Regions from separate parts of the Homo sapiens genome. Here regions 1 and 2 are each linked to region 3. The links come from fine-mapping of genetic effects on gene expression. A gene starts in region 3. Each other region holds a variant in brackets. All regions are shown on one strand. Distances are from middle to middle.

The links. PIP is the estimated chance that this variant, and not a neighbour inherited with it, causes the effect. A credible set is the group of variants that fine-mapping cannot tell apart.
Region 1: its variant is the best candidate, but not a certain one, in a credible set for the expression of GALNT12 in cerebellar hemisphere (GTEx, PIP 0.57).
Region 2: its variant is the best candidate, but not a certain one, in a credible set for the expression of GALNT12 in whole blood (TOPMed, PIP 0.82).

Annotation. Positions count from the first base shown.
Region 1 is chr9:98,669,232-98,674,927 of GRCh38, forward strand. All of the region lies in intron 1 of GABBR2 (gamma-aminobutyric acid type B receptor subunit 2), which reads right to left. Among named protein-coding and RNA genes, the nearest start is that of GABBR2, 37 kb to the right of the region's middle. The variant G/A (reference allele first, on the strand shown) is at 3,114.
Region 2 is chr9:98,480,022-98,485,717 of GRCh38, forward strand. It overlaps GABBR2 (gamma-aminobutyric acid type B receptor subunit 2), which reads right to left. Exons shown (of 19, transcript NM_005458.8): 5 at 911-976. Among named protein-coding and RNA genes, the nearest start is that of GABBR2, 230 kb to the right of the region's middle. The variant G/T (reference allele first, on the strand shown) is at 3,428.
Region 3 is chr9:98,804,296-98,809,991 of GRCh38, forward strand. GALNT12 (polypeptide N-acetylgalactosaminyltransferase 12) reads left to right here and starts at 3,375. Exons shown (of 10, transcript NM_024642.5): 1 at 3,375-3,774. The coding sequence starts at 3,404. It overlaps LOC124902229 (a long non-coding RNA gene), which reads right to left and starts at 3,285. Exons shown (of 2, transcript XR_007061689.1): 1 at 2,476-3,285. RefSeq lists silencers at 3,257-3,346, 3,447-3,516.

The sequences.
Region 1 (5,696 bases), 140 kb before region 3:
TTGTTTTTTAATAAAAGCCATCCTAATGGGTGTAAAGCGGTGACTCGTGGTTTTGATTTGCATTTCCCTAAAGGTTGGTGAACTTGACCATTTTTGCATGGGCTTAATGGCCATTCGTTTATCTTCTTTGGAGAAATGTCTATGTAAGTCCTTTGGTCATTTTAATTAGGTTGTTCTGACATTTAAACTTTTTAAATGTAACCAGTCATCCTCAATACCTTTTGTTGATAAATTCAGTTCTTCTCAATCATTTCACATTCTAATTTATTATATATTAAATTATTGTATTTATTCAGGCACGCTTCTAGAGTTTCTATTCTGTTCCACTGACTGGCTATCTCTTTTTGGTTTTAGAGCACAATGTTTTAATTAACATAGCTTTATAAGTCATCCTATTAGCTGTTGTTTTGTTTTGCTTTATGTTGCTTCAAATCATTTTAGGAAAATGGCAGAACATTAATACCATAAGTCTTAAGACCTAGGATGTTATTGATTCATCACTCCACAAATACATGTGGAAGACTATTGCTGGGATTGAGGATGCAGAACAGACTAGGGGCAGGGGCTGGGGGCTGGCACAGTCAATGGGGCATGTACATGCAGGAAACCAGAAGCACACATCATGAGGAATCTAGTCCAAGGAGTCAGGAAAGGCCTCCTTGAGAAGGTAATGTTTGAGCTCGAATCTTAACAAGGTAGAACCAAGAGAACGCAACCAGGAGAACGAAGCAAGCGACCAGGGCGGGGGTGGGAGGATGCAGCCAGGCAAAGGGCAGAATGCCAGCAAGCCACGTGTGCAGTCTCCAGCTGAGATGGGACTAGGGGAGGATGAGGGCCAGGCAGAAGGGCCAGCCGAAGGACTGTGGACTTTCTGCTAGGAAGAGTAGGCCATGGAAAGCTTTTAAAAAATAAACAGGTTTATTGAGATATAATTCACATATACAAATTACCCCTTCAAAGTGTACAATTCAATACTTTCTAGTATATTCACACATATGCACAATCACCACAGTCAATTATAGAACATTTTCGTCACCTCAAAAAAAAAAAACCCAAATACTATGTAACATCCATTATAATGGCCACTACCAAAAAAGTCCAGAAAATAACAAGTGTTGATGAGGACATAGAGAAATTGGAACCCTTGGGCACTGTTGGTGGGAATGTAAAATGATACAGATGCTATGGAAAACAATATGGCGGTTCCCCCCTAAAAATTATCATATGGTCCAGCAATTCTACCTCTACGTATATACCCGCAAGAATGGAAAGCAAGATTCCAAACAGAAATTTGTGTGTTCATGTTCATAGCAGCATTATTCAGAATAGCTGAAATGTGGAAGCAGCTCACATGCCTGTCAACAGATGAGTGAATAGCAAAATGGAGTGTATACATACAAGAGAATATTATTCAGCTTAAAAAGGAAAGAAATTCTGACATATGCTACAACATGGATGAAACTGGAGGACGTTGTATTAAATGAAAGAAGTCAGTCACAAAAAGACAAACAGTGTATGATTCTACTCATCTGAGGTACCTGGAGTAGTCAATATTGTAGAGACAGAAAGTAGAATGGTGGTTGCCAAGACTAGAGGGTGGGAAGAATGGTGAGTTATGGTTTAATGGATACAGAGTTCAGTTTTACAATATGGAAAGAGTTATGGACATGGGTGGTGGTGATGACTGTACAACATTATGAATGTATTTAATACCACTGAACTGTACATACACTTAAAATGGCTAAGAAGGTAAGTTTGATGTTATGTGTATTTTACCATGATTAAAAAAATGGAAAATGCAACCTAAATATACCCAGACCTATTTTTTAAAAGACACCAATAAACAGACATCATCTTGCTTTCATTAAAAAGACAAACAGGAAAATAATCCCATACCTTTAGCAACCACTGCCACCCCCCCGCCCCACTTCCCGCTCTCTGCCAATCTCTAAGCAACTACTAATCTACTTTCTGTCTATGTATTTGCCTATTCTGGACATTTCACACGAATGGAATCCCACAGGATCTTATGTGACTGGCTTCCTCTTTCACTTAATGTTTTTAAGGCCCATCCATGTCGTAGCATGCATCAGTACTCCATTCCTTTTTATGGGCAAGCAGTTATCTATTTTATAGATCTACCACATTTTGTTTGTCCATTCGTCAGTTGATGGACATTTAGATTCTTTCCACCTTATTGGCTATTCTAAATAATGCTGCTATGAACATGAATGTACAAGTGTTTAGGTAGACATATGCTTTCATTTCTCTTGGATACATACCTAGGAGTGGAACTGCTGGGTCATATGGTGACTCTATGTTTAATCATTTAAGCGACTGCCAGACTGTTTTCCAAAGACCATTTACATTCCCACATGGAATGAACAACGGTTCCAGTCTCTCTACATCCTCACCAGCACTTGTTATTATCTGACTTTGGATTTTAGCCATCCTGGTGGGTGTGAAGTGACATGTCATGTGGTTTTGATCTGCATTTGCCTGATCAAGGAAGGCTTTTAAATGGGGGCCCAATACAATCAGACTTTTGAACAGTTCACTCTGGATAAAGAATTTGAGGACAGCAAGAAGTCCATGAGGTTGTGGTTAAGAGGCCACCGCTGTTGTCTCGAGATGATGGTAGCTTGGACTATGATCAAAGAGATGGTAAAAAGCAGAGAGTTGGAGAACTAGCAGATAAAACCTACAAGGTCTGGAGATCACTGGGTGGGGGCATGAAGGAGGTATCAAAGGTTTCTTGTTTGTAGAACTGGGTGGATGATGGTGCTCTCACCAAGAGAACCCAGAAATATAATTTTTAATTGTGATGAAAAAATACATAATATAAAATTTACCATCTTAACCTTTTTAAAATGCACAGTTCAGTAGTGTTATGCACATTCGCAATGTTGTGCAACCAATTTCCAGAACTTTTTGTCTTTGCAAAACTGAAACTTTACACCCTTAAAAAAACAACTCCCTATTTCCCCTCTCCCCCAGCCCTGGCGACCACCATTCCACTTCCCGTCTCTGTGAATGTGACTACTCAGGAAATCTCATATAAGTGAAGTCAGACAGTATTTGTCTTTTTGTAACTGGCTCATTTCACTTAGCAT[G/A]ATATCCTCAAGGTTCATCCATGTTGTAGCATGTGTCACAACTTCCCTTTTAAGTGAGAACACAGAAATATTTTTTACTGACCAGCAAAAAGCATAGGTTTATTCAAACCACTTTCTTCTTCAATACTACACTCAAAGTTTGAATCTAAGCCTTCTTCAGATGCAGATTCTCAGGGTTCGTCTGAGTCGGTGCCTGTCTTGGCCAGATGGGCACAGCATTCTGCTGAAGCCCTGCTGTTTGTGACCCAGACTGCAAGACCTTGAACCCCTCAGCATCTTTCAAATGAACAGAACAATTCTCAGGCAAACCCAAGGATAAAGGAGATAAGGGCCTTTCATCTGAATTTCCTATTTGGTTATTTGCTGTTTCACTTTTCTTTAATTAAATTATCTGCTGATGGGAACTAGACAGTTTATCTTTAAAGTCTGTCCAAAGCTTTTAATAATTTCGGGCACTTGATATTCCTTCATGACACAAAAGTTGGTCACGGCCACCTCCCTTAACTCTGAAAATTTTATGATCTATTCTGGGAGATTTGGCAATTTCAACTGCCTTTAATCATCTTGGCTGGCACATGACAGCAATCTTCTACATTCACAATAATTGTATTACTTCATTATAGTGTCATCTTCTAAAACACATAATAAGCAATCATTTAGGAATCCAAATGTAAGTTAAAATTCAAGTGACTGTAAAGTCTCCAATGAAATAAGTGACCATAGCAACTGAGGTGGGAAATAGATGAAACCCCATGTACACGGAGATGGTGACAATGTCCACAAGAACTTATTCCTTTGTCCTCTGGCAAGGTACATCCTGGTTTCAGAAACATTAAAATATCCAGGGAAGATGTGCATCTTAGAATCAAGAAGACCCGGTGCATATAGAGAGGCAAAAGGAATATAAGGTTTATGTACAGCCACAGAAAGTGCCAGCTGGCACCAAGAAAATAAAATAGCCAAATAGATAATCGCCTCGTGCAGCACTTTTTATACCAAGAATCATAGTGCATGGTGGGGAAAATGCTACATGTGCAGAGGACAACTAATGAGGACTGAGATGAAGATCTTGAGTCATCAATAAAAGACTGAATTAAAATCACCGTATCTTAGAAGGTGGAATGTGAACAGGACTTATCTCTGAGAGGAGTAGATGAAGGGAGAAAATTATTATACTTTATAAGTATTTTCTTGGTTTTTCTTCTACCATGAATATGTACGAGAAAACGTTTTCTAAGTTGAAAAAAAAAAACAGGGAATAAAAAGATTTTAGAAAGATACACAGGATGGCCAATATCTAAAAGAAAACACTTTTGGTGTTTAAATGTGAAAACTTTAGGTCCCTGAAAATAAGCACCCGAGTACAATTGATGCCCTAAAGATCCTGAATAAACGGGGCATAACAGAGCATGGAAAGCCTTGCATAATTGCCACTATCACTGTGGTTTTCCTATAAAGCACTGTTCGACACACAAGCCCTTGTCTGACCTACGCTCACTGCTAACACTTCAGCTGCTGCCTCTGAAGGTCATGAGGAGCCCTGTTGAGGAGGAGATAAATGATAATGGTTTTTTTTAAGGGCAAAGCCTCGTTTGAGGCCCATCAGTCACTGCAAATCCTGTCCACATACCCCACATCAATCCTCTAGGGAAGGAGAAATGGTTTATAAACTTTGCTTAACAGTTAGAGACTCCCTCCTCCAGCCTTGCACAGTTCAGGCTGTGTGGTCATTTCTGTCTCCATCATCATCTAGAGAGGGAACAGGGGGTTTTTATAAACTTCCCTTGGCAGTTCTCCACTCCACTGCCCAGGATGGTGCCTGGAACACAAAAGGAGCCTAAGATAGAGTAGCTAAATGACATGGAAATCCAAGCTTCCACAGGATTCCCATGTCCAGTTGCTTGTTCTTACAAGTGACTTCACTAAATCCATCCACACAGCCCAGGAATCGCAGTGGTGTCATCAACATTACTCTGAACAAACAGATCCCACCCAATCACGAAAGCCAGGAATGCCACGTGAACATCTGGGGGTGCCATAGGATCCTTCACCTTGTCCATTTTCACTTCAAAGTGCTGGCTCCTGGTCTAGGGGCCCTGAGTGCTGGGTGCCTGGTGGGCAGTGAGGGTTGAGAGTGGGGGAAGAGGCAGAAATAGGTAAGAAAAAAATCCCCACCGCAGGACCTTTTGTGTTCCAGGCACTGCAGGAGTCCAGTGTAGCAGAGGGCAGGGCGGCACCTGGATCTCACACACCTACAGTACAGGACTCGGGTGTGATGGATGAAAGAGGTGAGATGCCCACACAGGAGAGTCCATGACAGATGAGACAAGAAGAGAGGCTACAAGGTGGCGGCCCAGCATGGTGGGGCCAAACTGCCAGCCCTTAGCTGGGTCTCAGAGCTGAAGAGATGTCAGTACTCCTGCTATGAACAGGGCTCAAGGAGGATAAGGGAGACCCTGAGACTGGAGGGTTCAAGGCCATGGAAGAGGCTGTGCATGTGAGCCATCCACAGGGGCATTGTGGAGGGGACAGTGTGGAAGCTTCATTTCTCTCTACACCCTCTTCTCTTTCTGCCTCCCTAGG
Region 2 (5,696 bases), 320 kb before region 3:
TGTATTTCATGATTTCTAGAATTCCTATTTATAACCTCATCCACATTACTGACAAAAAGATCAGAGATCTGCGGCCCGTCACCAGACACTACGCCTAGAATGACCTCAGTCTAAAAGGTGAAGCTTATTGGGCAGACAGTGACTCACCTGCCTGGGCTTTCATTTTGTTGACTTTTCTCCTGACATGATGGGGAGGATTGGGAGCTGGGACATCAAAATGGAAACTGACTTAGTTCCTGTGTTCTGTCCCCTACATCTAACTTAAGCTAGAAGTCATATGGAGAAAACCTTTTTTTTTTAGAGACTAGATTGGGGATCAGGTTAATGGGGATGGAGCCTTGGCTCTGCCATGAATTGGCTGAGGGCCCTTGGACAAGTCCCTTTACTCTATGGAGCTCTATTTCCTCATCTGTAAAATGGGAAAATCATAGTTGCTTCACATGGTTATTGAAAAGATTAAATGAGATAAGGCATAAAAAGGTCACCTTTGTCATCTGTCACTAGACAGCTGTAAAGGATTCAGGAGGAGAAAATCAATAGTTGATAATTTGTCCCTAACCTAAGACTCTGAGCCCTACCTACAGGGCAGGGAGGGGGTCTGAGTCACTTCAGCCTCACCCTGATTTCTGGTATCTCCCTGGCTAAGTTGAGCAGACTTAGAATTAGCCAACAAGGCTTAGACTATGGGTTAGACTGAGGTCCCTGGTTCCTCGATGATGGTATTGTTCTGAGCCCTGGGGTTTTAGCTCCCTGGAAAGAGGAAAGAACAGTGAACGCAACTCTTCTGCTTCCAGGAACCCAGGCTCCAGTCCTGTGATCCCACTCACAGACTGAGCAGGGAGATAATGAGTATGGGAAAAAGCTTCGTGAACCTCCCCAAAGACACGAATGATACAACTGTTTTACTTACACAACAGAACACTTTTGCTGCCATATTCTGGTCAAACTGGCCAAGGATGATCCGCACATCATTCCCCTGTGGATGGAAGGACACATCATGAAGGTGAGTAGATGTTCAGCACCCCATAAAGGGTTCAAGGCTGTGGCAGACAACATTCCTTCACCTCTGGCTCTTAGCCCAGAGCTCTGCCTGGGAAGGTGGGCAGGGCAGAACCTCACCCCCAACCCCAGCCCAGCCTGGATTCTCTAGCCCTCTCCAGGGCTGGCTTTCCTGTGGCTCCTGCAGTCAGTCCACCCTGGTCTCATGGGCAAGCCCTAGGGCAAGTCTGTACAGGCTGGAGGCTAAAGCTGACTGCTCTCAGGGGCCTTGCAACCTCCCCTGTTCTCCTCCCACCAGGGCAGGCAAATCCTGCAGTCCATGGAAGCATCATCTAACTTTCTTCCACACTTTACATATAGGAAAACTGAGGCCAGATGAGGAGAAAGGAGCTTCTAAGGCCCCTGGGGAGTTTGTGGCAGAGACAAGACCCCAGCCAACCACACTCTGCTGCCCTGCACAGTGTTCTAGCCCTTTCTACCTTCCTGATAGTTAATCCCTCAAGAAATTCCTGGAGCCTACAGAGCTTCCCAATTAAGAGGTTTCAGACTTGCTTTGAGCTTTGTTCGCATCTCAGCTCTACCAACAAACCATGGGTGGCCTCTGGTCGCTCCTTTTCCATCTCAGCCCCAGTTTCCTCATCTGCAAAATGAGGATAATGGTAGTACGTTCCTTACCGGATTTCTGGGAAGACTAAGTGAAATAGTCCTTGTAAAGTGCTTAACACAGTGCCTAGCACATAGTGAGTGTCCACCTTTATTTCTAAGGAAAATCTATTTTTGAAAGCTCTATACATGGGATTACATTCATTATCTCAGTGTGGTTAATAGGAATGTGTACAGTGACCCCTGTGACTCATTCATTCATTCAACAGACAATTACTGAGCATCAGCCAGAGGCTCTCATGGGTCAGGTAAATGGGGTCTTTGTTGCTTTCTGGGGCATTGGGATCCAGCTGCGTCCTGTCCCATGGAGAAGAACAGGCTGAAAGAGAACGGGTGGGGCGGCCACCAGGAGACCAGCCAGGCCCTGGCCCAAACACCTGCTCCCCATCCCAGCCGCTTCCTGCCCTCCACAGTGAGGCCCAGCCTTGCAGGTGGTGCCACCTTCCTGCAGTTCATCCATCCCCTCCAGCAGGCCTCATGGCCCTTTGATGCATAAAGTAGAAAAATATGCTTTTAAAGATCAGTTTTTAGCATCTTTCAAAATTGGAAAGTGCTGACTGAGAGGCCATTTTACTCATCATGTACTTTAGCAAAATAAAGAAGGCCTGGATTCTAAAATCATCTTTCGTTTGCAAGCAAGAATGGAAAGAAGAGGGGAAAAAAAACACTGGCTCTGAAAGGACTTTAAAAGATCGTTAACAGAGCAGTGGAAGGAAGGCAAGCCTTTGTCATCACCACGTCTGCAATGCTATAAAAAGTTCTAAGCTGCTTCCGTTCTGTGGACTTGCTTCCAGGCATGCTCCAAGATCTTTCTGCTTGTTCGTTAAAAATTTTTAGCATTTTTTGCTGCTGACAGTACCCATGCATCCATCCATCCTTTCATCCAGCAAGTATCTATTGATCATCTACTTTGTGCCAAACCCTGTGTTGCTAAACATGGTATGGTAAAAACAGCTTATTAGATTTTGAAGTCAGAGACCTGGGTTCAAATCACAGCTCCACCTCTGATTAGCTGAAAACTTTGCTTCTTAATCTCCTGGAGCCTCAATTCCTTCATCTCTGAGAAAGGGATAATCCTATCTACCTTGCCCAGTGGTTGTCAATTCATCATAATGAAACTCACCCGGTGGCTTCCATGCTGCTCTCTGCTGGCTCCCCTCGTGCCTGCCTGGCCACTCCTGCTCATACTCCTCATCATCAGCTCCTGACCTTTCTGCCCATCCCTAAATGCTGGTGTTCTGTCCTTAGCTCTTTGCTCCCATCACTCTCCCTGGGCCACCTAGTTCATGACCCCAGCCACAACTGTTCTCTGTGTGCTGTGGACTCCAAATCTCTCCCCCCAGCCTCAGATTTTCTCCAGTTTCCCACCAGACTCTTCCAGTTGGATTCTCTCAGGCACCTCCAGCGCAACATGTCCCAAGCTGAATCCACCAGCTTTCCCAAGAGGCCCTTTCCTCCTCCTGTGTTTTCCATTTCTGACAATGTCAGGAACTTGGGAGTCATCTTAGACTCACTCCTCTTCTTCAACCCTCATCCAAGCCATAACTGGAATCTGTTGGTTCTGTCTGCTCACAACTAGCTCCTTAATCAGTCCCAACCCTCCAGCCCCACTGCCCTGAGTTTGGTTACCATCATTCCTTACTCAGTGAACAGCAACAGCCTCCCTGCACCCTTGCCATGAATCCTGCCCCATCCACCCATCGCCACAGAGCAGAGGAAGGGTTCATTCCTAGATTCAAGTCTGATTGTGTGAAATCTGTCCATG[G/T]CTTCCTGAGGTTTGCAGATCAAACACTGAGCTCCTTAGCACATTCAAGATGTGCTAAAGATAGAGATGGTAAAGATCCTATGCAGTCTTTACCAACTGACTTGTGCTCAATTCTCTATCACATTTCTCATACCCTGCCTTGGCAGTGAGTCCTAAAACAGGACTGCATTCATTCATTCATTTATTCATATTCCCACTTCGCCCCCCACCCATTCTGCAAGTCTATCCCTCCAGAGTGCCCTTCCCTCTCCTCCCACTTACTTTGCCCGCACAGCTGCTACTCACCCTTCCTACCTTAGCCCAGGCTCCTCTGTTCTGAGAAACCATCTCTCTGCCCCATCAGGCTTGGTGGCCACTTCTTCCTCTGTGAGCCTGGATCACCCTGTGCTTGCCTCCAATGTGGCTCAAGTCCACTTACTTGTCTGTCTTCCCCACTGAAGTAAGCGTAACTTGACTTATCTCTAAGTCCCCAGCTCCCAGAACAGGGCGCTACACATATGTCAACAAATATGTGTTGAATGCACGATGAAGTGAATTAATCCAGTGTGCAGCATCACGCACAATGCCTGGCCTACGCTGCTTATTTGGTCACTAGTAGCCATTATCATCACTGCACTAATATCTGACCAACCCCATGGTCTAGACCCTGGGCTCACCATGTCCACTTCTTGAGTAGATCGAGGGACCCACATCTTCATAGCTGACCTCCTGACCACCTGCTGACAGTTAAATAACCAGCTCTGCCACTTGTGAACCATTTGGTGTCTTTGTTGCTATGACAACCGAGTTGCAAGGACCACTTTGTTCAGTGCTCCCAGGCTGTTAGATTTGGATGGGGCCCGTGGGATCCCCCATCTAGCTAATCTCTTCCCAGAGAGGTACAAGCTCTCCCAGGGCTCCACAGAACCAAAATGAAAGCCAGAGCTCTCACTTTGGTTCTCCTTGACCATTAGAGGGCCCTGGAGACAGATCCTATGCAGAGCCAGGTCATGCCTGCTGCAGGAAGCTGTGAACACATACTCTGCTTCTAGACGGTGAGAAAGAGGGGGAAAGACGCTGCCAAGTCTGGAAGGAAGGAGGAGCAGCCCGGAATCCAGGGTTGGGGAGAGGCCAAACGGGGGATGAGGCTGGATGGGGATCTTGGGGGGCACCATAGAGCAGTATAAACAGTTTGAGGTGCTTCTCAAACTAGGGTATGTGCATTCTAGAGCACGAGGAGGTGTCCCGAGTGTAGGAAGTGCAGATATACTGCGTTCTCCTTTCTAAAGTAGCAACTTACTGGAAGATTCAGGGGTTAGGGGAAAGGTTTTGGATTTGGGGAATCTTAATAGTTTTTCCACACATGTGCATGCTCTCATGAAAGTTCCAGAATCATGCTTTTCAATGTTGCATAGCTTGTATCTTTTCCTGAAAGTCCAGAGAGTAGAAAGAAGAAATTTGGGAATAGCAGTAGCCCCTGCTTTCAGACAAGCCCCCTGCCTCCCTGCCAGGGTATGGGCCCATTCTCTTATGCTGAAAGGGCTTGGGGCAGTTTAGGCAGTAGTAGGGGGTAGGGAGGGGCAGCCATAACCATCCCTGAGGATGACAGTGACAGATCAGAGCTGTGATATCACAAAGGACTGGAAACGTGGCAGAGGGCAGGGTCTGGAAAATCCTGTGCCCTTCCAGGGACTTGGCTCTGCAGGGAGCTTCCTGGAGTGAAAGCAGATGACCTGAGTTGGGGCAAATGAGATGGCCAGGTCTAGGGTTGGAGACCATACATGGAGACCTATGTTCACACCCTCAAGAGGCTACTATCACAAGAAAGGGGCAAAAGTGGAAGGAAACAGCGGTGGGAATGGGGTAGGAAAATGGGGAGGGGTATTCAGCCCAAACCCCCAACAGTGACAGGATGAGTGAGGGAGAGGCCCACTAAACTCCCTCTGGAGAGGAGTCTAATGTTGCCAAACCCTGGGTAGCTTTCCTTTTCTTTTTCTTGACCCTGTCTCATCCCTCATCTAGAACCACTTTGTCTCTGGGATGCTTAAAGAGAGCTAAACACACATACACACACGCAGGCACACACACACACAGGCACGCACACACACTCACGCACGCACATGACACTTAGCAAGGATAACCCAATTCAAAGAACTAGCATGTACCCCCAGTTTGCAAGCAATCCTAACATCATAAAAATAACAACTCTCAAGCCCTTTCTGAGCTGTTGTGCTAAACAGTCCGTCAGCCCCACCCTGGGAGGTGGGCGCTGTTATTATGCTCACTTTGG
Region 3 (5,696 bases):
TGAGCACTTACGAGTCTATGTTTGTTGGATAGATTCCTAGATGTGGAATTGCAAAATCAAAAAGATGTTAATATTAACATTTCTAATAAATGTTGCCTAATTGCTTTCCAAAAGGTTATACTAGTTTGCATTCCTACCAACAGTGGATGAGAGTGTTTTTTCACATCCTTGCCAACACTGGAATTAATAGCCATTTTCATTTTTGCCAGTCTGATAGGTGAAAAAATATTTCAGGGTAGGTTTATTTTGTATGTATTTTAGAGAGATCGAGCATATTTTCATACTTTTATAAACTATTTATATCCTTTTGGGTGGGAACTGTCTATTTAAATCCTTTGACCATTTTTATTTCTGTTTGTTCTCTTTATTTCCCTATTGATTCACATACTGGGTAAATGTCATCTGCAAATATCTCTTTCTGACTTGCCTTTTGTTTCTGGACTTTGTATTATACTGGAAGCCTTACAGAATTCAAAATTTTTATATAGTCACATTTAGAAATATTTTCCATATGGTCTCTGGTTTTTCTCATTCAATACTTTTATAATTAAATTCCTTCCCTTCCCTTCCTTCCTTCCTTCCTTTTTTTGCTTATTTACTGTGGCATCTTCAGATCATTTGGAATTTATTTTGATGTAAAGTGTGATGTTGGGACTTGATTTGAATTTTTTCCAAATGGTTATCAAGTTGTCCCAATTATTACTTGAATTAGGCACATGTTCCCCACTAATATTTGAAATACCACATCTACCATAGATCATATTAAACTCTAAAAGGAATGTAATAACTCCTATGAAGAGAGCTAATATGACAAATTAAAAGCATCTTCTAGAGATATCTACTTGTTGGTGAGCAGCCGATGACATAACATGGTACTGTTAGTGAACAGATAAGCCCCCTAAAAATAGCAATAAACCCAAGGGCTTTACCTCTGTTGAAAAGATGCTAGATTTCCAACAAGCTCCCAGGTGGTACCAATGCTTCTGGTCTAAATATCATACTTCACTCAGCAAGGTGCTGGACATCTTCCCTTTGCCTTACTGACACTCTCTCCACTCTGTTTTGTGCCCCGGGAGGCTGACTGTGCAGACTGTATCACTCAATCTTCTCAACAACCCTGTTCAGGTGGTGCTATCATTAGATCACCATTTAATAGATGAGCAAATTGAGCCGAGATAAGTAAAGCAACTTGCCTGAGGTCACACTGCAATTCGTGATGGGGCTGGGTTGAGCTCAGGCAAGTGGGCTCCAAGGTTGTGTTCCGACCTCCTAAGCTAAGCTGCCTTTGCATCTCATTGCAGCCTGCCCAACAGTGAGTGGTGTGGTGGGAAATCCTGGACTGTGAGTCAGGAGACCCAGATACAAATCCTCCCTCTACCGCTTGCATGTTGTGTAACCTTGGGCAAGTTGCTTCACTTCTTGAGCCTACATATTCTCATCTGTCAACCTTGCAAGGTTGTCATAGGGTGAAATGAGAAAGTACATGAAAAAGAAAGTCCAGCAGTTTACAGCACACAGTGTGTGCTCAGTAAACAATAGCTTTTATCTGTTACCTGGGGCTTAAGTCCATGTCTTGTAAGGCCTAATTGCATTTCTCTTTTCTCTGTATCTGAACCTCTATTGAGAAGCATTCCAATTTGGCAAGCGGATCCAAGACATTATGAATTGTAATCCTTGTCTGTTTTCTAATCTGACCGCAGATCTTAAATGTGTTGGGTGTCTGAACAGAGGCCAAAGGGCTCAGGTCCAGACCTACCTAACACAACCGCCTTCTGGCATTAACCAGCAGCCTCCATTCTGCGTGGGAAGCAGGCGGGGCCCTGAGCACTGTGGGAAGAGCCACTTCCCTCTAGTCTAATATTAGCAGCAGGTTGTCCTGAGTGGGAGCTGCTTTGCATGGTTCATCCCAAAACCCACCCCCCTCCTGCAACCTGAGGGAGATTTCCTCTGGGGATACCAGTAGCCAAAGGCTGTATGAAGACAACAGCAAGTCAGATTCTACCTCTACCTGAGCCGCCAAGTTCAAGGTCCTCTCCCCACCCTGTGTCTCAGACCCCGCATTTATCAATGAGATAATTGGACCAGATTTGTGCTTTTTAAACTTTCTGGGCTTCTGGTCTCCTTGAGAATATTTGATAAAAAGCTTTGGACCAACTTCCCATGGTAAAACAAACAACAACAAATAGAGCTTACACTCTATCCTTCTACAGGGGATACAGAATGATTCTTTTCCCTGAGCTAGACACCAGCAGAGGGAGTTCCAGATTAATTTAAGATATGATTTGAAATCTCTGCTATCACTTTTACATTCAGATATCTGTGTAGACATTACTTCATCAGAGAAGCTTTCCAAAACCCCCAAACTAGATCAAGTTCTACTATTCTAAGCCCTTTTAGCGCCCTGTAATTCTTCTTCAAAATACTTAACACAATTCTAATTATCTTTTTAATATTTGTCTACTCCATTAGACTTACTTCGTCCCTGGCAGCTCAAGGCTCCCACAGCAGTGATCTCATGAACAGGGCGGCAGCTTCATGGCCTTTTTTGGTTGTTGTTTAATAGAAACAGGATCTCGCTTTGTCATCCAGGCTGCAGCGCAGTGGCGCATAGTTCACGGTAACCTCCAATTCCTGGGCTCACACAATCCTCCTGCTTCAGCATCCTGAGTAGCTGGCACTATAGGCACGTGCCACCATGCATGGCTAATTCTGAAATTTTTCTGTAGAGATGGGAGTCTTGCTATGTTGACCAGTCTCGTTTTAAGCTCCTGGCTTCAAGTGATCCTCCTATCTCGGCCTGGGATTACAGGTGTGAACTATCATGTACAGCCTTCATGGCCTTTTGCTCCTAGCCTCAGAGGTCACAGAGCTATCACGAGGCGAGCCAGGCGAGGGTTTGCTATTCAAGGACTCCAAAGAGTATGGCAGAGGCTGGGCCTGCAGAAGTCAGTGGGGCAGCGTGGTGTCTGTTGATCTCATCGCACCTCCATCTCCTCATCTGTAAAAGGGAGCTCGTAATCCTAGTTGATGGTTGTTTTATTGGACTGTGTAAAGATCAGATGAGATAATGGCAGTAGAATTCATAACACCCTGCAGGGTGTATTCAGCCAACACTTAGCGCCTACAATATGCCAGGCGCTAAGGGTTTTACCACCACTATCTCTTTAATAATGCACCATAGCCCAAGAAGGAAGATGCAAGTCTCAGCCAGCCCACTTGAAGACCCTGCCGAAATGAGCCACCCCGGGGGCTGCGCTTGGGCTGGCGCGGGGCTGGACGGAAAGGGGGCGGCGCGCAGGTGGGGCGGGCCGGGGGCGGGGCGGCACGGCGGTTCCGGGATCCGGGTCCTGGCCTCCACCGCCGCCTTGGGGCGCGCAGATCGCTGGCTGCAGTTGGCGGGCGCATGTGGGGGCGCACGGCGCGGCGGCGCTGCCCGCGGGAACTGCGGCGCGGCCGGGAGGCGCTGTTGGTGCTCCTGGCGCTACTGGCGTTGGCCGGGCTGGGCTCGGTGCTGCGGGCGCAGCGTGGGGCCGGGGCCGGGGCTGCCGAGCCGGGACCCCCGCGCACCCCGCGCCCCGGGCGGCGCGAGCCGGTCATGCCGCGGCCGCCGGTGCCGGCGAACGCGCTGGGCGCGCGGGGCGAGGCGGTGCGGCTGCAGCTGCAGGGCGAGGAGCTGCGGCTGCAGGAGGAGAGCGTGCGGCTGCACCAGATTAACATCTACCTCAGCGACCGCATCTCACTGCACCGCCGCCTGCCCGAGCGCTGGAACCCGCTGTGAGTGCACAGCTCTGGGGAGGAAGCCCGCCCTCAGAGCCCCGGGCCTCAGTTTCTCCATCAGAGCAGTGGCAGGGCGGGGAGCTGGGGTCTCCAGGATGGCGCGTCTTATTGAGTCTTTCTCCGAAGACGATAGTGTAAGAGCTCACATGGGGGCGGGGAGGCAAGAAAGTAAAAAAGACGAAAGTAGAAAAAAAATTACCAGAAATTGGCAAGTCTGTTAGTGATCTCTTAGCTCCCTTCTCCTTGAGAAGTTATCATCTCCCTGAAAAGGTGAGGGTCAGGGCTAAGCAGAAGGGTTTAAGGCGAGGACCCCCCAGCACCCAAAGGACAACCCCGCTCTGCCCGCCTCGCAGTGCCTCCGCGAAACTGACAACTCCTCCGGGCGGTGACCGGCTCCATTCATTCTCTGTGTGTGCCAGGGCCTAAGGGACAAACAAGATGCGAGGGAGCGCCCCACAGGTGAAGCGAAAGATGGCTGTAAGGCCCCCTCAGCGCTAGAAAGCCTCCTTGTGCTCTCCCTGGGCATTGGATTTCTGAGCTTTGGGTGGAGGAAGGCGGGAAGGGGCACGGGGTGGGAAGGGCTCCTTCTGGCCGTGATCCACCCCAGCTCACTCCTGTGGGTGGTGCTGGACTGGAGCCAGCGTGGTCAGAGGCCTAGTTCCTGTTGGAGCTACTGGCTGGGCAGGTTGCGCCCCTGCCTAGGTGGGGATCCAGGGCACACGCTGGCAGCAGGAGGAAGGACAGGTGGCTGCTGCCACCTTTGCCGCTGGGCCTCCCGGGCTCTCACTTTTTCTTCGAAGTGTCAGGGATCTTCCAAGTCCTTTTTTGAGCCCCTTCCTTACAGACTTTGAGGAAAAGAGGACTCAGAGAGGGGGTTCCCATTGGAGCTGGTGGTGGCAGCCTGCCGTGTGCACCAGGCACCTGCCACTCCTCTCCCCTTCAAGCCATTCCTGCTTTACAGGTGTGGAAATAGGTTCGGAAAGGATAGGTGACCCACCCAAGGCCCCTCAGCTGGAATGTGGTAGGACTGGTCTGGAGGGACTATGGCCCTTCTGGCCCACTTGGCACCATGCTGATCTCAGGATTTTAGGGGCCTGCTCCATGGTACCTTGGCCAGAGAGACCATGAATGATGGAATGAGGATGCCCCACCTCTGCCCCACTGTTTCCACTGTCTTCCCTGTTTTGGGGATCTCCTCATGCCTAGCCTCATGCTTCTGCCTGAGGCATTTTTCACTGTTAGTCTTTTTGAATAAAACTTTGTTGGGATTGATAGTAGTTCCTCCACTCACCAGCCTAACGCATGTTTAGCTCCTCGAAACCCCGAGGGTGCCCGCTGAGGCAAGGTGGAGGGGAAGCTTTCAGGTTATACCCAGCTTCAGATTAAATCCAGCCCAGGGGAGATAAAATCCTGGTTCTTTTGCTCGTCACTTCTGTGATCTCTGGCAAGCTGCTTAGCCTCTCAGAGCCTTGGTTTCCCTTCGTTTGCGAAATAGGAAACTCATAAAAGTGAGTCTCCATGCATTCTACATAAAAGTGAGTGGAAAGAACACAACTTAGGAATTAATAAAGCATCAATACCTGGGAGCACACTGTGTGCTTAAATCTTAGTTTTTTCACCTTTCCCTGTTGCCAAGAATGTACTCAAGAGGTTGCTTTTGAGAGTCATCCAGGGATTGGTTGTAGTTTTTCTTTCCTGGATCCAACTTCCTTTATTGTCGCAGGTTGTGAATATCTCTTTGAAACACTGTGGACAATCTGTGGGGCTTATGGTAACCTGTCTCCATGGTGACGCAGCTGCCCTGTGTCCTCTCAGGATTTGCTTGTAGATCCTGCTGTTGCATTGACCCTGGAAGTTAAGCCAAACCCAGCATGATAAGGAGTGTGAATGCCTCCTGCTTCTAATTCCTGCAGCAAGGC